Linked DNA regions of Homo sapiens. The protein of the gene in region 3 binds, or shares a complex with, the protein of the main gene of each other region. Each region holds a gene or a part of one and is shown on either strand. Other genes may lie near its edges.

Region 1 (6,612 bases), on a different chromosome or scaffold from region 3:
GGCTATTTGGGAGTTCCAGTTGTTTCTCATCGTCACCAGTACTTTTTATTTTTTTCATACCGGAGGGTGTTGTGACATTTCATTTGCCAGATGACTCATGAATTTGACAACCATTTCATGTGTTTTTTGGCTATTTTGTAAGCTAACATTTAATGACTGCTTTCTATGTGCCATTCCCAGCCTCCCTGCTTTATAATTTATGTCTTTTTTTTCTTTTTTTTGAGACAGGGTTTTGCTCTGTTGCTTAGGCTGAAGTGCAGTGGTGCAATCATGGCTCACTGCAGCCTTGACTTCCTAGGTGAAAGTGATCCTCCTACCTCAGCCTCCTGAGTAGCTGGGACTACAGGCTCATGCCACCATGCCTGGCTCTTTGTTTTTTTTTTTTTTTAGAGATGGGGTCTTATTATGTTGCCCAGGCTGGTCTCAAACTCCTGGGATCAAGTGATCCTCCTGCCTCAGCCTCCCTAAATGTTGGGATTACAGGTGTGAGCCACCACACCTGGCCATAAGTCTTATTTAATGCAACAATGCTACCCCATTCCACAGATGGGTAAGTGGTATCTGGTAAGAGGAGGAGCTGGGATTCAGTCCTCAAATTCTGGGGCATGCATCTTAGCCTTCCCCATCCCACTTGGTGAGGTGGGCCACCCTAGTCACATTGAGATATAACCAGTTGTTTGCAGATGGCTGTGGGACCATCTGCAGAGGTGCTGTGAAGACCTGACATTCCAACGGAGAGAAGGACAGGAAGCAAACGACAGGCCAAGGGGAGGAAGGGGGTGGTCCCAGGCTATAGATAACAGAAGAAGAGAAAGGCTGCTGCTGGAGCTTGTGAAGCGCAAGGCACAAATGGCAAATTAAGAGTGTGTTTATTTACAGGAAAATCATGAGAAGCAGGAACAAACAGGGCTGTAGGGGAGGTGGGCTGGCAGTGAGGCCAGGTGTCTGTGTAAACAGGCATTGGCTGGATAGAGGGAACACAGGAGCCAGGCTGCGGGAAGAGGTTTCCTTTCTCTGGCAGCTCTGGCTGAGGCCCCAGGAGGGACATCAAGCGAATATTTTCTGGAGCTCCCCCAGGCGTGGGTCCTTGTAGAGCTTTTCCTCCAGAGCCAGGTACTTCAGTGGGGCCAGTTCCTTGTGTCTGAAGTCAGAGAGGCAAGGAAAGAGGGTGAGGGGTTACAAAGCTGGTGGTCCAGCCTCCCAGTGGGTTCTCTCCACCTGCCCTGCCTGCTCACCGATTGAGGCGCTGCTCCAGGATGCGGATGCGGAACATGGCCTGAGAGCAGTAACTCAGGTACAGGTCTTCATCCTCGGGTGTCAGCGTCACCTGGTTCTCCTGGTACCACTGCTGCTTCTTTTGCAGCTCCTGGGTCTCCTGTGGTCATAGGGCAGACAGAGAAGGAGGACTGACAAGGCTGACCTTCACCCAGGCTGCAGGCTGCAATCCCATGGGTCACTAGACAGCACCATGACGGTTGGCCCCAGTGTCCCCACTCACACAAGCCACCTATCCATACCTGCCACAGAGGCAGGGGCCACAAAATATCTTGGGTGGGAGCCAGTGGGGTCATGTTTATAGGGATGTCATGTCCATGAGATCAGAACGGGGCAAGACTGAGAGAGCCATGTAGCTCTGGACAAGTTACTGGCATTTTCAGAACCTGCAATTTCTTGTCTACAAAAGGAGGGTCATTGTACTCCCCCCTCCCCTTGTAGAGCTCCTTGTGAAGATTAAGTGACATAATCTTAGTAGTGCACGGGAACTACATGGTGTGTGCCTGACCAACAAAAATGGGTCAAGGACTAGGAGTTGTTACAGTGTACCATCTCTCTGTCTACCCAGCCATCTGCCCATCTATTCCTCTGCCCATCCCTCCACCCATCCCTGCCCATCCATCCGTCCATCCGTCCTTCCACTCATCCATCCAACCGTCCATCTATCCACTCGCCCATCCAACCGTCCATCTATCCACTCGCCCATCCATCCATCCATCCATCCACCCACCCACCCATCCACCCACCCACTCATCCATCCACCCACCTACTCACTCACTCATCCACCCATCCATTCATCCATCCATCCATCCACCCATCCATCCATTCATCCATCCACTCACCCACTCTTCCATCCACCCACCTACTCATCCATCCATCCATCCATCCACCCACCCACCCACTCATCCATCCACCCACCCGCTCACTCACTCATCCACCCACCCACTCACCCATCCATCCATCATCCATCCATCCATCCATCCGTCCATCCGTCCTTCCACTCATCCATCCAACTGTCCATCTATCCACTCGCCCATCCAACCGTCCATCTATCCACTCGCCCATCCATCCATCCATCCACCCACCCACCCATCCACCCACCCACTCATCCATCCACCCACCTACTCACTCACTCATCCACCCATCCATTCATCCATCCATCCATCCACCCATCCATCCATTCGTCCATCCACCCACCCACTCGTCCATCCACCCACCTACTCACTCATCCATCCATCCACCCATCCACCCACCCACCCACTCATCCATCCACCCACCTGCTCACTCACTCATCCACCCACCCACTCACCCATCCATCCATCATCCATCCATCCATCCATCCATCCACCCACCCACCCATCCATTCATCCATCCACCCACCCACCCCATCCACCCACTCATCCATCCACCCACCCACTCACTCACCCATCCATCCATCCACCCACCCACTCATCCATCCACCCACCCACTCATCCATCCACCCACCCACTCACTCACCCATCCATCCATCCATCCACCCACCCACTCATCCATCCACCCACCCACTCATCCATCCACCCACCCACTCACTCATCCACCCACCCATCCATCCATCTATCCACCCATCCATCCATTCATCCATCCACCCGCCCACTCATCCATCCACTCACCCATTCATCCATCTGCCCACTCACTCACTCACTCATCCACCCATCCATCCATCCACCCACTCATCCATCCATCCACCCACTCACTCATCCATTCATCCATCCACCCATCCATCCATTCACCCATCTACCCACCCACTCATCTATCCACCCACCCACCCACTCATCCATTCATCCATCCACCCATCCATCCATTCATCCATCTACCCACCCACTCATCCATTCATCCATCCACCCATCCATCCATTCATCCATCTACCCACCCACTCATCCATCCACCCACTCATCCATCCACCTACCCACTCATCCATCCACTCACTCACTCACCCACCCACCCATCCATCCACCCACCTATCCATACCTATACCCATACACCTATCTATCTACTCACCCATCCATTCATCCTCCCATCCATCTATCCATCCATTTATCCACCCATCCACCCACCCATCTGTTCATGCACCCACCCATCCCTCTATCTACCCATCAATCCACCCACCCATCTATCTATTCATCCATCTACCCATGCATTCATCCACCCATCTATCCATCCATCCATCCACCCACCCACCCACCCACCTATCCATACCTACATCCATCCATCCCCCTATCGATTCATCTATCCGATAAACAAGTGTGAGGAGGAACAACTCAGTCATTTGGAAACCCCAAGCATTGACATATTCATCCCGTCATCAGGCCCTCACAAGCCTGTGAGGTAGTGGGCGGACAGCCGTGGGCCCATTTCCTGGATGCAGATGCTGAGATCCCCCCCTCCCCAACAAAGGCCCTGGTGGCACCTTCTCAAAGCGGGCCTGGATGAGGTTGGCCTTGTTGATGAGCCGCTGCTTGAAGTCGCTGAGGCACTCATCCTTGAGGCGCACCGCCTGCCAGCATGTTAGTTTCTCTCCTGGCGGGAGCTGGGCCAGGAATGGGGCCAGGTAGTCCAGCTGGGTCTCCACCTGCCGCAGGTGCTCTTCGTGCATCATGCGCTCCTGTAAAGGTGAGGGGCAGATAGCTGGATCAGCAGGAACTACAGAGACCTCTCCACCAGCTCTGCATCAGCAGTGTGCCAGCACAAAGCCAGACCTCACAGCCAGGTTCCAGTGCATGGCGCCTCCAAGATGGGCCTTAGAAGGGCCCACATGCTGGTCTCTGGACCTGTGTTTACTGGTGACAGCCAACTCTTTTTTTCTTACATGAATTTGTATCTCACTACCTGAGCTTTGGTTTCCTTCTCTGAGGATCTGAGGATCTGACAGGATCATGTCTGTAAAGCACGCAGCCTGATGCCTGACAATCCATAGTAGATGCTTATTCAGTCAACGGTAGTGGTTATTAACGATGTTAGTTAAAAACTGCCAGTAACTCCCTTCACTTTTCTTTTCCACCCTGGGGCCTGTGTCCTCCATCTGCAGACAGGGGGCAGTGAAGTTGGAGACGTGGGGGCTGACACCCTCCCCTGGGATCTGAGAACAGTCATCTGATGCCCATCCTGCCTCACGACCCCCAAACTAAAATCTCAACTTGGTTGGTGAAAGGGATTCAGAAGCCGGCCCTGAAAACCAGGCGGGGCCTTGCAACCTGAAGGTGTAACCTGAATGCCCTCCCTGTGCTGGAGAGCAGGAGAGCTCAGGCCTGGAGCCAGAGGTAGCTCACTGGGGCCACTGGCCCAGGGTGCAACCTCAGTGGGAGCCCTGAGTAGAGGTGGGCACATAATTTTAATTCTTTTCCCAACCACAGGCCTTGGCTTGGCTACAGCCCCTGGGGATGGGGGGAAACCTTGCCCAAATCCCAAGTACTCTTTGGGATGAACCATAGAAATGGTCAGTTCAGCAGCAAGGATGACCGCATGGTATCAATAACCGTATCCCCCACAGAGGGTTTCTCAGCAGAATCCCTCATGGTCCCCACCACCCTGGAGACCAGGGGGGTCTAGGAAAAGCTGGGGCCTGGAGAAGGGATTGGGACTGACCATGGCCTCCCGATATTCCTTGCTCTTCTCATTCCGCTTGGTGTCATAGATGGAGATGGTCAGTGTGTGCGCCGCCTCCTCTTCCTCTCGAAGCTTCAGAATCTCCAGCACCTGAAATGAGAAGTGTTGGAGGGCGTGATGGAGACACCCCTCCTCCACTCCTGTAACCCCAGCACTTTGGGAAGCCAAGGAGGGCAGATTGCATGAATTCAGGAGTTTGAGACCAGCCTGGGCAAAATGGAAAAACCCCATCTGTTAAAAAACAAAAACAAAAACAAGAAATTAGCCAGGCATGGTGGTGTGCGCTAGTGGTCCCAGTTACCTGGGAGGATGAGGTGGGAGGACCACCTGAGCCCGGGATGTAGAGCCATAATTGCGCCACTGCATTCCAGCCTGGGTTATAGAGCGAGACCCTATCTCAAAAACAAAGATACCGCCCACCTGCTCACTCTCCCACAGGACCCTACCTCCAGCTCTGACTCCCAGACCTGATGTCTGGACAGCTTCTCCTCCCTCTTCAGGTGCATCATGGCCTCGTACTGGTAGAGCAGCTTCTTGGTGTGCTCCATGGGCTCCACCTGGGACAACAACCACCTTAGTAACACAGAGAGGCTGCCATGATCGGGGCATAGGACCACCTGGGTTCAAATCTACCCCTGCCACTTTCCAGCTGTGTGACCTCGAGCAAGTTGCTAAACCTCTCTGAGCCTTAATTTTCTCACTTATAAAAATACAGATAATAATAAAAGAGGAACTGAAGACTCAGAAAAGCTGGGGACTGTGCCGGGAGAGTGAGCGTTTGACTAGGAAAGCTAGCCCCTCAGAGGTAGTGAGACTCTTCCCCTCCCACAGAGCCTCCCTAGGATCTGAGGTTTGCCCTGACCAGGACTGCAGAGTCGTCTTAGCCTGCTGAGTTCGCTTTTTTGGTGGAAAAGGAAGATTTTCAGAGGAGCTCAAAGAGAAGGGTCCCCAGATGGGAACTTTTGGTTTTCCCAAAGAGCAAAGATGAATTTCCTCGCCGGGATTCACCAGCGCCCATCCTGGTTCTCCCAAGTGGCTGGAATAAGACAGAGAGCCCCGGTTCCTCCTGCAGCCGACCCCTGCCCGCCGTGGCCCCCAGGCCCACCTCGAAGCTGATGCACATGTCGGGCGTCATGATGATCTTGTTGCCTTTGCTGTCCACCTCGGTGCGCCGCAGGAACTCGCGCTTGGAGGCCGTGATGTGGTCCTCACGGCAGTGGTAGCGCAGCTGGATGCGCTCCTCCGCGACCAGAAACACGCGCTCTGCCACGTCCTCCTCCGCGGGCTTCGCTGGGTTGCGGAAGAACCGCTCTGTGATTTTCTGGGAGGCCAGAACATGCAAAGGATGAGCAAAGGATGAGCGTGTGAGAGGAGATTTCTGTGCATGCCCGCAGGCAGGAGCAACGAACGTTCAGGACACTGGAGTCTGGGGTCGTTTGGCGATTCACGTGGAATAGCCCCTCCTAGCCAGACAATGGATTTCGTGGGTTCTCAGGGCCAGGCCACTCCACTCCCATATGGTGCTGGGCCCCTCCTCAGCTCCTTCAAGACTCTGCTTGCCTACCTCAAGAGATGGGGAGCTCACCACCTCTCCAGGCAGCCTACTCCATTGCTAGACATCCCTTACTGCTAGAAAGAGCTTCTTTGGCATGCTGCCATTACACACAGTTGCCAACTAATTTGTAATGACATGAA
Region 2 (7,112 bases), on a different chromosome or scaffold from region 3:
TGCGCCACCACTCTTGGCTAATTTTTTACATTTTTGTAGAGACAGGGTCTCGCTATGTTGCCCAGGCTGGTTTCGAACTCCTGGGCTCAAGCAATCTCCCTGCCTCAGCCTCCCAAGTAGCTGTGACTACAGGCACATGCCACCATGCCTGCCTAATTAATTTTTTTTCTTTTTTTAGAGATGGGGTGTCTGGCTGGAAGTAGTGGCTCACACCTATAATCCCAGCACTTTGGGAAGCCAAGGCAGATGGATCACTTGAGGTCAAGAGTTCAAGACCAGCCTGGGCAACAGGGTGAAACCCCATCTCTACAAAAAAAAAAAAAAAAAAAAAAAAATTAGCTGGGCACAGTGGCTCATGCCTGTAATCCCAGCACTTTGGGAGGCTGAGGCAGGCAGATCACCTAAGGTCAGGAGTTCGAGACCAGCCTGACCAACATGGTGAAACCCCATCTCTACTCATAATATAAAAATTAGCTGGGTGTGGTGGCGTGCACCTATAATCTCAGCTACTCGGGAGGCTGAGGCACAAGAATTGCTTGAACCCAGGAAGTGGAGATTGCAGTGAGCCTAGATTGCACCATCATACTCCAGCCTGTGCGACAGAGTGAGACTCTGTCTCAATGAAAGGGAAGGGAAGGGAAGGGGTGGGGAGGGGAGGGGAGGGGTCTTACTCTGTTACCCAGGCTGGTCTTAAACTCCTAGCTTCAAGGGATCCTCCAGCCTCAGCCTCCTGAGTAGCTAGGATTATAGGCATACCACACCAGTTAGAAGAATTGTTAAGAAGGGAAATGGCGGTGTGGTGGCTCACGCCTGTAATCCCAACACTTTGGGAGGCCAAGGCAGGTGGATCACTTGAGCTCAGGAGTTTGAGACCAGCCTGGGCAACACGGCAAAACCCTGTCTCTACGTAAAAGACAAAATTAGCTGGGCGTGGTGGTATGCACCTGTAGTCCCAGCTACTCAGGAAGCTGAGGTGGGAGGATCACTTGCGCCCAGAAGGCAGAGGTTGCAGGGAGCTGAGATCGCACCACTGTACTCCAGCCTGGCTGCAGAGCAAGACCCTGTCTCAAAAAAAAAAGGGAAACAGTAGCATGATCCCAAACCCTAATAATAATTGTCATATTGCACACATACAGTGTATTTAGTTTAACATACATTTTCTCTCTAAATCTTTACAAAAACCCTGTGAGATGGTGTATGAGTACAGATTTGGCTGCTATAACAGAGACACCCAAAATAGCTGTGGCTTAGTCAAGATGGCAGTGTATTTCTCTGTAGTGGAAACACCGGAGCTGGTGTGGCATCTCTGCTCCCCAACTTGTCAGAGGTCTGGTTTCTTCTATGTGACTTCCCTGCTGTCCCCAACATGGGACTTCTGCTTGTGGGCCAAGATGGCTGCTCCAGCTTTCCCCATCATGTGGCCCCCAGTCTAGCCAGCAGGAAGGAGGAAAGGGGAGGAGAGGGCTTGGTTCTGCCCCTTAAGGACACGTGTGGAGGTGGCACACAGAACTTCCATGCATATCTTGTAGCCACACCCAGCAGAGAGAAGTGCTAGGAAGGACCGACCACCCGTCACTGGGGCTGTGTTATGCTCCACATTCTACCCCACAGCCTCTCTGGGGAGAGCAGACATGGGGGTAGCCAGGCTGCACTGCCACAGGCCCTTCTGTTTCTATCCCCCACCACTGATGAAAGGTTCAAGGCCCTGGGAAACTATTCACAGCCCCCTCCCTGGTGCTGGGTTGGGCACTTCTCACTGAATTTGTCCTTTAAAGCATTCACCTGACTTTGTGGATAACATTCACCTGACTTTGTGGATAACATATGTGTGTGTGATTTGTGTGGTCTTGAGGGGTCTGGCTCCTCCACAAGAAAAGGGGGACCTTGTCTCTTTCAGCCTGCCACTGTGTCCCCAGTGAGCCTGTCCAAAAGAGGGGCATGATGTATACTTGTTGAGTGGACAGAGGACCAGCTGCTGAGCCCTCGGGCAGGGAGGTTACTAGTAAGGTGGGAGGGGCATCATCTAGGAATAGGCAGAGGGACACAGGTGGCCCTGCTGGTCTCATTCAGGTGCTAGAACCAGCTTGGGGCTTCACCTTGGACTGACCTGGGCTCAAATGCCATTTTTGCCAGGTGGGCAAATTTCATGTCATTGAACCTCAGTGTACAGTGAGGGGAGACACCAATCAGGCACGTGTGGGGAGTCTACAGGGAGAGCTCTGACTGCCGATCATATTCCCAGCGCCTGGTGCCTAAAGCCTTGCCTGCAGGATGGGCTTGCCCCAAAGGCACTGCCTCCCTGCCCCCAGTGTGCAGGAAGTGAGCAGATGCCCGGCGGGCCTGCTGCCAGCTGACCCAAGCCCAAGATGGTGGCGTGAGCAGCCATAGCACCGCTGTGCTCAGAGGGAGACTCTAGTGTAGTGAGAAGCCTTGAGAGCTTCTTTACAAAACTGTCTCATCCTCCACCCCCATTCCTGTTCTAGAATCCACCCAAGGCAGGGGACAAGCCAGACATGGGCCCTCAAGAAAGAGCCCGGTGGCAATCCCTGCAGCCTGTGTTCATCGCACACCTTCATGCACCCCACTAAGTGTCTCTGCCAGCTGGGCCTCCCCTGCTGTGTCCCCAGGAGGAGCATCGCCGCTGTCCCAGTCCTCCCCTGTGGCCTCAATCCAACAAGCTTGTACCCTTCACTCGTGCAAGGAAATAGAAAGTGGTGGCCAAGAACGTGGGCTCAAGGTCAGACAAACCTGGCTTCAGGCCCCAGTTCAGCTGGGCAACCCCAGACAGATGAAGCCACCTCCTTGAGCCTCAGTTGTCTTGTCTGTAATCAGGCTGTCCCTGACCTCCATTGTGGGGTTGGGGGTGTGATTAGAGAGATATAACCCAGGTGGCATGCCTGGCCCTGAGGGAGGATGCAGTGGTGCCAGCCTCTGGTGACTGTCAGTGGATATGGAGAGTTGCTTTTTTTTTTGAGATGGAATCTCACTCTGTCACCCAAGTAAAAGTGCAGTGGTATGATATCTCCGCTCACTGCAATCTCTACTTCCTGTATTCAAGTGATTCTCCTGCCTCAGCCTCCCGAGTAGCTGGGATTACAGGCATGCACCACCACACCCAGCTAATTTTTGTATTTTTAGAAGAGACGGGATTTCATCATGTTAGCCAGGCTGGTCTCAAACTCCTGACCTCAGGTGACCCACCCACCTCAGCCTCCCTAAGTGTTGGGATTACAGGCGTGAGCCACTGTGCCCGGCTGGGCATGGAGGTATTAACGGAGCCCTTTCTCTTCCTGGCTTAGGTGGAAAAGGAGAACTTTGTGATCCAAGAACTGAAAAACCACCTGCACCAGGTGCTCAAGTTCTCAGAGAACAGCCTCGTTCGCACTAAGCAGGAGGCTGAGAAGCAGCAGAAGGCCGATTTCCGGGCATCACAGGCCAGGGTGGCCAAGATCCAGCAGGAGATCCTGCAGCTGCAGTCACAGTTTTACAACCTGGTCATGGAGAACCGGGAGGCAGAGCAGGCGCTGAGGAAGGTGCCCCGGGAAGCAGCGAGGATGGGCCGAGGGGGCCCCTGGTGGGGGGGATGGGTGGGACTGTTCCATCACTCCTGGAGGTCCAGCAGTGTTGGGCAGGGCAGGACTGCACCAGCTACTCAGGAAGTGGCTTGGTGGAGGGGAAGGGCACAGGAGCAGGGAAGGCCCAAATCCAAGCCAGTGTCTCCTGGGAGGCAGGAAGGGGCAGCACACAGGCCTGGGGACAGGGGACAAACTGGGATCCTGTCCCAGCATTGCTGCATGCCAGCTTTGTGACCTTGGGCAAGTTCCTCAACTCCTGAGACCCCACAGGGATAATACCCACATCGTCAGAGGCTGGGTGCCCTGCAAAGGAATGAAGAAGTAGCATGTAAAGCTCAGGCTAATTACTCAACTCCTGCCCAGCTGCCGATTTCACACCTCAGAAATGAAAATGCTAACATTGGTCTTAATGGTTGTTACATGAGAATTACATGAGATGGTAGTGAGAGAGCTGGTGCATAGTAAGTGTTCAATAAATATCATTTCTGACCGGGTAAGGTGGCTCATGCCTGTAATCCCAACACTTTGGGAGGCTGAGGTGGGAGGATCGCTTGAACCCAGGAGGCGGAGGCTGCAGTGAGCTGTGATTGCACCACTGCACTCCAGCCTGGGCAACAGCAAGACCCTGTCTGTACAAAGAATAAAAGATAAATTAGTCAGGCGCTGTGATGTGTGCCTATAGTCCCAGCTACTTGGGAGGCTGAGGCAGGAGGATCACTTTAGCCCAGGAGTTTGGAGGCTGCAGTGAACTATAACTGTGCCACTGCATTCCAGCCAGGTCAACAGAGTGAAACCTTGCCTCTTAAAAAAAAAAACCCAAAACCTTCATTTGCCTTCTCCTTCATCATCTCAGCCAAGACCCAGGCCTAGCACACACCCAACTTCCAAATCTCTTTCCTTGTAAAAGGCACCCTTTTTAATACTTGTCTCCAGTCTCTTAGTGTCACACTCTTGAGCATCTGATGGAAGCCACGGGCCTCTCCCCCAGAAAGAAGGCACAGATGCACTTACACATCCTAGTGGACAGTTCCCTGGGGAGCCCAGTCCCCCTGAAGCCGGCCTACCCATGGTGCCCAAGCTAAGGGCTCTTGCTCTGTAGGATTAGGGGGTTTATTTATTTATTTATTTATTTATTTATGTTTGAGACAGGGTCTCACTCTGTCACCCATGCCAGAGTGCAGTGGCGTGATCATAGCTCACTTCAGCCTCCAACTCCTGGGCTCAAGTGATCCTCCCATCTCAGCCCTCATGGGTCGCTGGGGCATGTCACCACGTCTGGCTAATTACAAATTATTATTATTGGCTGGGAGCAGTGGCTCACGCCTGTAATCCCAGCACTTTGGGAGGCTGAGGCAGACGGATCTCCTGAGGTCAGGAGTTCGAGACCAGCCTGGCCAATGTGGTGAAACCCTGTCTCTACTAAAAATACAAAATTAGCCGGGCGTGGTGGCATGCACCTGTAATCCCAGCTACTTGGGAGGCTGAGGCATGAGAATTGCTTGAACTCAGGAGGCGGGGGTTGCGGTGAACCGAGATCACACCACTGCACTCCAGCCTGGGTGACAGAGCGAAACTCCATCTCAAAAGAAAAAAAAAAAGTATCATTTTTTGTGGAGACAGGGTTTTGCTCTGTTGCCCAGGCTGATCTAGAACTTGTGGCCTCAAGCAATTCTCCCATTCCCACCGTGGCCTCCCAAATGGTTGGGATGAGCCACTGGCCCAGCCTGCTTATTTTTAATTTAGGTGAAACTTACATAACATAAAACCATTTTAAAATGAGCAATTCAGTGGCATTTAGTATATTCACGATGTTGTGCCACCCCCACTTCCACCACTTCTATCTAGTTCCAAAACATTATCACCTCAAAATAAAACTCCATATCCATTAAGAAGTTACTCCCCATTCCCTTATTCCCCCTGTCCCTGGCAATCACTAATGTGCTTTCTGTCTCTGTGGATTCACCTATTCTAGACACTTCATATGAATGGAATCTTCTGTGGCCGTTGTGTCTGGCATGTTTTACTTAGCACTGTGTTTTCAAGGTTCACCCATGTTGTAGCATGGATCAGTGCTTCACTGCTTTTTATGGTGGAAATAATCTTTTAAAAACAAGATTAGATCATGTCCCTCCACTGCATCTAAATCACCCAGTGGCTTCACCTCACCCTTTCCTGAGAATACAGCCTCCTCTTGCTGACACTCCCTCTGTGACACAGCCTTTTCCTTGGACCTTGTTGGGGACCACTTTCCTCCTCGCCACTCCCTTCCAGTCACACTGGCTTGATTTCTGTCCTTTAATTTTTTTTTTAATTTTTATTTTTTGAGACAGTCTTGCTCTGTCACCCAGGCTGGAGTGTGGTGGCATGATCTCAGCTCACTGCAAACTCTGCCTCCTGGGTTCAAGTGATTCTCCTGCCTCAGCCTCCTGAGTAGCTGAGATTACAGGTGTGCATCACCATGCCTGGCTAATTTTTGTATCTTTAGTAGAGATGGGGTTTTGGCATGTTGGCCAGGCTGGTCTCAAACTCCTGGCCTCAAGTGACCCGCCTGCCTCAGCCTCCCAAAGCGCTGGGATTACAGGCGTAAGCCACCACGCCAGGCTGATTTCTGTCCTTTAAACAGCACAAGCTTGTTCCTACCTCAGGGCCTTTGCACCTGCTGCTTTCTCTGCCTAGGATGTCCTGGAACCAGGCTGCTGGCATCAAATTCAGGCTCTGCCACCCATTAGCTCTGTCACCTTGGGCAAGTAAGATAGCATGTCTGAGCCTCAGTTCTCTCCCCTGTGAAATGGAGAAAAGGGAACCTCCTTGTTCAATAGGCGAGGCATGTCAAGCACCTGCCAGAGCCTAGTGATGCAGAGAGTGCTCAGTGCTGTTGATTGTTAATATATTCCATCAAACAATGACAAATTGGATCTTTTCTAGAAGAAATATAAAGTGGAAACGGAAATCGAGAACTGGATCCAGAAATATGATACAGAGATGGGTGAGAAGCAGGTATTTGTCGCTGAATAAGTCTCTCTCGCATGCTTTTCCCAAGACCTTCTAGGAATGGGATGAATGGGAAAAGTAGCCTTGGGATGGTCCATGGAGTGGGCAAACTTCTGAGCCTCTCTGCAGGGAGCACTTCCCTTTGTTTAAAGGGTTTGTCCAGCCTGGGGCAGAGTGAGAGGTGGGAAAGAAAAGAGCCAGAAGCTGCAAGGCCAGGTGCTGTGGCTCATGCCTGTAATCCCAGCACGTTGGGAGGCTGAGGTGGGAGGATCGCTTGAGCTCAGTAATTCAAGACCGGCCTGGGCAACAGAGCAAGACTCCATCTCTATTAATTTAAAAAAAAAAAAAAAAAAAAAGCGACTGGCTAGAAGGGCCTGACACTCTGACACTGGGCCTAATGATCATGGCTCCATCTAGTGTCCACATCCCATACTCCTCTGGATGGGCTCCTGCCAGCACCCCTACAAGGTGGGGCTCCTTCCCACAGACTCAGATGGGAGCCTGCCTCCACTGCATCACTCAGTCACTCAGCCAGTTTTTATTGAG
Region 3 (6,640 bases):
GGCAAGGTCCAGGCAAAGGAGTGGATGCCCATCACCAAGCTGGGCTGCCTGGTCAAGGACATGAAGATCAAGTCCCTGGAAGAGATCTATCTCTTCTCCCCGCCCATCAAGTAGTCTGAGATCATTGACTTTTTCCTGGGGGCCTCTCTCAAGGATGAGGTTTTTTTTTTGTTTGTTTGTTTGTTTGTTTGTTTTTGAGACGGAATTTTGCTTTTTTGCCCAGGCTGGAGTGCAATGGCATGATCTTGGCTCACGACAATCTCCACCTCCCAGGTTCAAGTGATTCTCCTGCCTCAGCCTCCCGAGTAGCTGGGATTACAGGCATGCGCCACCATGCCCAGCTAATTTTGTATTTTTAGTAGAGATGGGGTTTCTCCATGTTGGTCAGGCTGGTCTCAAACTCCTGACCTCAGGTAATCTGCCCGCCTCAGCCTCCCAAAGTGCTGGGATTACAGGCGTGAGCCGCCACGCCAGGCCTAGGATGAGGTTTTAAAGATTATGCCAGTGCAGAAGCAGACCTGCCCCAGCCAGCGCAGCAGGTTCAAGGCGTTTGTTGCCATCAGGGATTACAATGGCCGTGTCACTCTGGGTGTTAAGTGCTCCAAGGAAGCAGCCACTGCTGTCAGAGGGATCACTGTCCTGACCAAGCTCTCTACTGTCCCCGTGCAGAGGCCACTGGGGGACCAAGATTGCAAGCCCCACACTGTCCCTTGCAAGATGACAGGCTGCTGCGGCTCTGTGCTGCTGCACCTTATTCCTGCACCCAGGGGCACTGGCATCCTCTTGGCCTCTGTGCCCAAGAAGATGCTGCTGATGTCCAGTATTGACAACTGCTACACCTCAGCCAGGAGCTGCAGTGCCACCCTGGGCAACTTTGCCAAGGCCACCTTTGATGCCATCTCCAAGACCTATAGCTACCTGCCCCCTGACCTCTGGGAGGAGACTGTGTTCACCAAGTCTTCCTCTCAGTAATTCACTGACCATCTTGTCAAGACCCACACCAGAGTCTCTGTGTGGAGGACTCAGGCTTCAGCTGTGGCTACAACACAGGGTTTTGTTTTGAGATGGAGCCTTGCTCTATCGCCCAGGCTGGAGTGCAGTGGTGCAGTCCTGGCTCACTGCAACCTCCACCACCTGGGTTCACATGATCCTCCTACCTCAGCCTCCCGAGTACCTGGGACTACAAGCGCACACCACCATGCCTGGTTAATTTTTTGTATTTTTAGTAGAGATGGGGTTTTACCAATGTTGGCCGGCCAGGCTGGTCTCAAACTCCTGACCTCAAGTGATCCGCCCACCTTGGCTTCCCAAAGTAACACAGGGTTTTTATATAAGAAAAATAAAGTGAATTAAGCCTGTTTAAAACAAACAAAAACACAGATACATAAACCAATGAAACAGAATAGAGAACTCAGAAATTAATCTATATATTTACAGCCAACTGATTTTTGACAAAAGCGCCAAGAACACTCACTGGGGAAAAGACAGTCTCTTCAATAGATTTTGCTGGGAAAACTGGATATCCATATGCAGAAGAATGAAACTAGATTCCCATCTCTCACTCTATACAAAAATCAACTAAAAATGGATCTAAGACCTACATGTAAGACCTGAAACTGGCAGGGCGCAGTGGCTCATGCCTGTAATCCCAGCACTTTGGGAGCCTGAGACAGACAGGTCGCTGGAGCTCATGAGTTGGAGACCAGCCTGGGCAACATGGCAAAGACCCACCTCTCTATAAAAAATACAAAAATTAGCTGGGCATGGTGGTACCTGCCTATAGTCCCAGCTACTCAGGATGCTGAGGTGGGAGGATGGCTTGAGCCCAGGAGGTGGAGGTTGTAGTGAGCTGAAATTGCACCACTGCACTCCAGCCTGAGCAATAGAGCCAGACTTTGTCTCAGAAGAAAAAAAAAAAGACCTGAAACTATAAAATGACCAGAAGAAAACAAGAGAAATGCTTTAGGACATTGGCCTGGGAAAAAATTTTATGAATAAGACCTCAAAAGCACAGACAACAAAAGCAAAAATAAATGGAATATATCAAACTATAAATCTTCTGCACAGCAAATGAAACAACAGAGTGAAAAGACACCCTACACAATGTGACAAAATATTTGCAAACTACTTATCTGACAGGGTATTAATATCCAGAATATACAATGAACTCTAACATCTCAATAGCAAAAAAACAAACAATTCAATTAAAAACATCTGAACAGATGTTTCTCAAAAGAAGACATACAAATGGCCAACAAATACATTAAAAACTTTTCAGCATCACTAGTTATCAGGGAAATGCAAATAAGAACCAGAATGAGGCATCATCTCACCCCACTTAGGATGATAATTATCAAAAAGACAAAAAATAACAAATGCTGGTGAGGATGCAAAGAAAAAGGAACTCATATACTGTAAGTAAGAATGTAAACTAGGACAGCCACTAGGAAGAACATTGTGGAGGGCCCTCAAAAACTACAAACAGAACTATCATATGATCCAGCAATCTCACTACTGAGCATTTGTCTAAAGGAAAGGAAATCACTATATTGAAAACATATCTGCACCCATGTTTACTGCAGCACTGTTCGCAATAACAAGATACAGAATCAACCTAGGTGTCCAACAACAGATGACTGGATAAAGAAAATGTGGTACCTATACACAATGGAATACTATTCAGCCATAAAAAAAGAATGAAATCCATGGCAACATGGATGGAACTGGAGGACATTATGTTAAGTGAAATAAGCCAGGAACAGAAAGTTAAACACCTCATGTTCTCACTCATATGCCGAAGCTAAAAAAGTTGATCTCATAGAAGTAAAAACAAGAACAGAGGCTTCTAGAGACTGGGAAGGGTAGAGAGATGGAGGAATAGGGAGAGATTTGTTAAAGGATATACCAAATTACAGCTAGATAGGGGGAATAAGTTCTAGTGTTCTATACCACTATGGGATGACTATAGTTGACAATAATATAGTTTCAAATAGCTAAAAGGAGGATATTGAATGTTCTCAACACAAAGAAATGATAAATGTTTGAGACGGATATGCTAATACCCTGATCTGATCACTATACATGATAGGTGTTGAAACATCACTATGTACCCCATCAATATGTACAGTTATTTGTCAATTTTTTTAATGCCAATTTTTTTTTTTTTTTTTGAGGTGGAGTTTCACTGTTGTTGCCCAGGCTGTAGTGCAGTGGTGCAATCTTGGCTCACTGCAACCTCGGCCTCCCAGGTTCAAGCTATCCTCCTGCCTTAGCCTTCCAAGTAGATGGGATTACAGGCACCCGCCACCATGCCCAGCTAATTTTTGTATTTTTATTCACCATATTGGCCAGGCTGGTCTTGAACTCCTGACTGAGGTGATCCACCCACCTTCCCGCCTTGGCCTCCCAAAGTGCTGAGATTACAGGCATGTGACACCGTGCCCGGCCAGTGCCAACGTGTTTAAACAAAGAAGTTGCTTTGAAAGAAATGTGTCTTTACAGCCACAAGGACCACAGAGCAGGGCAACAGCTCAAAAAAGACTCAGGAATACCTGTTTGCACAGCCCCTGCCTCCACCCTAGTGCTTTCAACCTGCAGAAACTGGAGAGGGATCTGGAATATTCTACCCATAAAAACTATTCTAAGAGGGAAAATTGAAGTAGCCACCACTCTAGGCCACCCAAAGTCCAGAAACAACTTGTAACTCACATTTCAAAACAATTCCCTTAAACCCAGTTTCCTTTTGTTTTCATTTTACAAATGTCACACAGTTTTTCATAACCAATTCTAATCATGTATGTTTCTAAGCAGATTTCAGTTTCTGTTGCTTCTCACAGCTTTTGAAGCTGTTTTCTACATATTCAAACTCTGAGGGGTATGATTTCTCTGCCTGGCTTAGAGCTCCACTATGACCCACCTTTTAGAATGAAGGATGAGAACCTTTTCGTGATGGGTTGACACTGTGGTTGTAGTTATCTCTAAAATAACCAGGACACCCACTCCTAAGCACACTGCCAAGGCTCACCGAAAACAGGCTTTACACACCTTTGAACCATTCCCAGAGCCTGGCCTGGGACCTTGTACACACATGGAAAGAACTTAATAATTTCTTGACATTTCTCCCTTGTGACTGTGCTAATTGGTCCCCCAGACACCCCATTCCACATATCAGCTAACCTGGCTTTTCCCACATGAGATTATGTGGAAAATCAGCATCCCACAAGACATTAACAGGCATTACTCTGAAGTCTGTAGCCAAAAAAGTTGGAAAACCAAGAGAGACAAAGCTTAAAGGGTTTATTTTCCACAGGACTTTGTAGAGCCTTCAGAATACTTTGTGCCCAGCAAATCTTTAGGAGGGGCCTAGGATGTGCTGGCTTTCCCAAATGTATTTGACCAAAGAATACTTTTTTTGGCAGAAATATTAACATCTTAAGATTGCACAGAACGTTTTAGAGACCATTAAGTTAACTGCCACTACAGGAAAGAACAAAAAATGCACACTCCACTTGCAAATCCTCCCTGCAATACAGAGCATTCAGGTGCTCTGCCTTACCAAGCGCCTCTGCTTCAAGGTGGAAGCAACTGCTTACTGAGTGCTTCAGTGGCCTTGCCCTGCTCTGGGAAATGACTCCATTTCAACCATCCCAGGCAACAATAGCCACAGTGTCAACACCTAGAACCAGTGAGGCCTATTAGAAGGTGGTTGTTTCTAACAACTTTTTACAAGACAGCAAAGTCAGGAACAAGAGAAGGCAGAAGGATACTCCAAATGGAATCCAAAGTTTGGTTTTGTTGACATGAGTGGCAGTGGAGAGACAACTGTGGGGTGAACACCCATGAGTTTGTAGGGCCTGCTGTCTTCAGAGCAGCCTCGAGACCCTCAGCCAGCCTCATGCTTCCACCCAGCAGGCAGAGGTTTTGGGCAAGTTAGACTTGAGAGTAATTGAGAGAGAAGCATTGTGAGAACAGATGTCCTGGGTGAGGTGCCCCCTGGGCAGCCATCTGCCTTCACCCTGGAGGAAACATGCTTCCAGCGGGGACTGCAAAGTAACACCCTGGTTGGCCCTTTCCCCACAACACCTGCCCTGTGCAGTTGGGGAAGCGGCTGTCACAGATGAATTCACAGATGAATCGGCAGAGTGCGCTGATACAAAGGTGGGCTCTGCTCTGAGTGTGGCCTGCACAGCCAGGGGACTTCCAAATGCTCCTTCTCTGTTCAGCTCCCTTTGTGTTCACGGTATAATGACACACACTTTCTCATTGGATTCTTTTCACTCACCAGCTTTTTGTCGATAAAGATACGATTGTTAATGCTGTCGGGGCATCGCACGACATCCACCTCCTGAAGATTGACAATCGAGAAGATGAGCTGGTGACCAGAATCAACTCTTGGTGTACACGTTTAATAGACAGGGTGAGTCAATCCCAAGCCATCCTAGCAGGCTGGATGAACTTTTCTAGCTGACATGGAAATCCTCCCTAGGTAGTGGATAGAATTTTCATTAAGGAATGAAATGAAGGAAGAAATAAAATTAAGGATTATAGAATTCCACACTGAAGACAACATTGCCCAGAGACTTTAAAACCCATGGGCTTCATCATTTTCCTAATTCCTACCTCAAATATACAGAGATCAGCAGAACCTGGGGAGGCGCTGAAGCAAATGAGGTTTGCAGATCTAAAGGAACTATTTTCCCCTTCCCTCAAACTGGATTCAGTGAAAGATATTAACCAATGATCTGATGTAAGGAATCGGGCTTTGGTTTCACTCCTCAGATTCACAAGGATGAGATCATGAGGAACCGCAAGCGCGTGAAGGAGATCAATCAGTACATCGACCACATGCAGAGCGAACTGGACAACCTGGAATGTGGCGACATCCTAGACTAGATGAATGTCAGCCACAGGAGCTTCTTCAAAACATAGCACCAGCCCCAGCCAGGAGAAGGAAGTGCACACGCCTCACCCGCACCTCTAGAGAGTTGCTGGGCATCTCTCAACCGCGATCCCCAACACCATTCTTCCCCCACCCCTGGAAAAACTTCCAAAAGTAGAGAAAATAAAGGACTCATTTCACATTTCCCCTACTCATAAAAAAAAAAAAAAAATCAGCTGGGTGCGGTGGTTCACGTCTGTAATCCCAGCACTTTGGGAGGCCGAGGCATGCAGATCACGAGGTCAGGAGTTCGAGACCAGCCTGACCAACATGGTGAAACCTTGTCTCTACTAAAAATACAAAAATTAGCCAGATGTGGTAGCGTGCACCTGTAATCCCAGCTACTCAGGAGGCTGAGGCAGGAGAATCACTTGAACCTGGGAGGCGGAGGTTGCAGTGAGCCAAGATCGCACCACTGCACTCCAGCCTGGGCGACAGAGCGAGACTTCGTCTCAAAAAAAAAAAAAAAAAAAAAAAAAAAAAAAAAAAAATGTTCATGTAGGAACAAGAGAAAGAGTTTGAGATGAACAGCCGGTCCCAGGCCAGCTGACAGAGCAACTCCCAAGGGCACTGCCATCAGCTAGATTCTTGGCTGTGGCATAAAGTCAGACACGTGCCCCTGCCGTTTCCCCTGCCATGCCTAGGCAGGCTGCCAGCCACAGGCAAAAGGAGGCCGGTGTGGGCTAAGACCTTCTCTGCTCT

Evidence for each region.
Region 1: DRC3 (region 3) and DRC7 share a complex: the UniProt entries of both Homo sapiens proteins name them as parts of the nexin-dynein regulatory complex.
Region 2: DRC3 (region 3) and DRC10 share a complex: the UniProt entries of both Homo sapiens proteins name them as parts of the nexin-dynein regulatory complex.

Annotation. Positions count from the first base shown.
Region 1 is NC_000016.10:57,725,694-57,732,305, reverse strand, and holds the end of DRC7 (dynein regulatory complex subunit 7), read right to left. Parts: intron 6,239-6,612; coding exon 6,023-6,238; intron 5,475-6,022; coding exon 5,364-5,474; intron 5,008-5,363; coding exon 4,897-5,007; intron 3,917-4,896; coding exon 3,722-3,916; intron 1,376-3,721; coding exon 1,236-1,375; intron 1,142-1,235; coding exon 1,048-1,141; 3' UTR 501-1,047; downstream 1-500. UniProt on the Homo sapiens protein: Component of the nexin-dynein regulatory complex (N-DRC) a key regulator of ciliary/flagellar motility which maintains the alignment and integrity of the distal axoneme and regulates microtubule sliding in motile axonemes.
Region 2 is NC_000012.12:113,197,001-113,204,112, reverse strand, and holds part of DRC10 (dynein regulatory complex protein 10), read left to right. Parts: intron 1-3,299; coding exon 3,300-3,533; intron 3,534-6,500; coding exon 6,501-6,572; intron 6,573-7,112. UniProt on the Homo sapiens protein: Component of the nexin-dynein regulatory complex (N-DRC), a key regulator of ciliary/flagellar motility which maintains the alignment and integrity of the distal axoneme and regulates microtubule sliding in motile axonemes.
Region 3 is NC_000017.11:18,010,780-18,017,419, forward strand, and holds the end of DRC3 (dynein regulatory complex subunit 3), read left to right. Parts: intron 1-4,279; exon of another isoform or gene 4,280-5,284; coding exon 5,285-5,416; exon of another isoform or gene 5,417-5,421; coding exon of another isoform or gene 5,422-5,481; intron 5,482-5,778; coding exon 5,779-5,892; 3' UTR 5,893-6,110; downstream 6,111-6,640. UniProt on the Homo sapiens protein: Component of the nexin-dynein regulatory complex (N-DRC) a key regulator of ciliary/flagellar motility which maintains the alignment and integrity of the distal axoneme and regulates microtubule sliding in motile axonemes.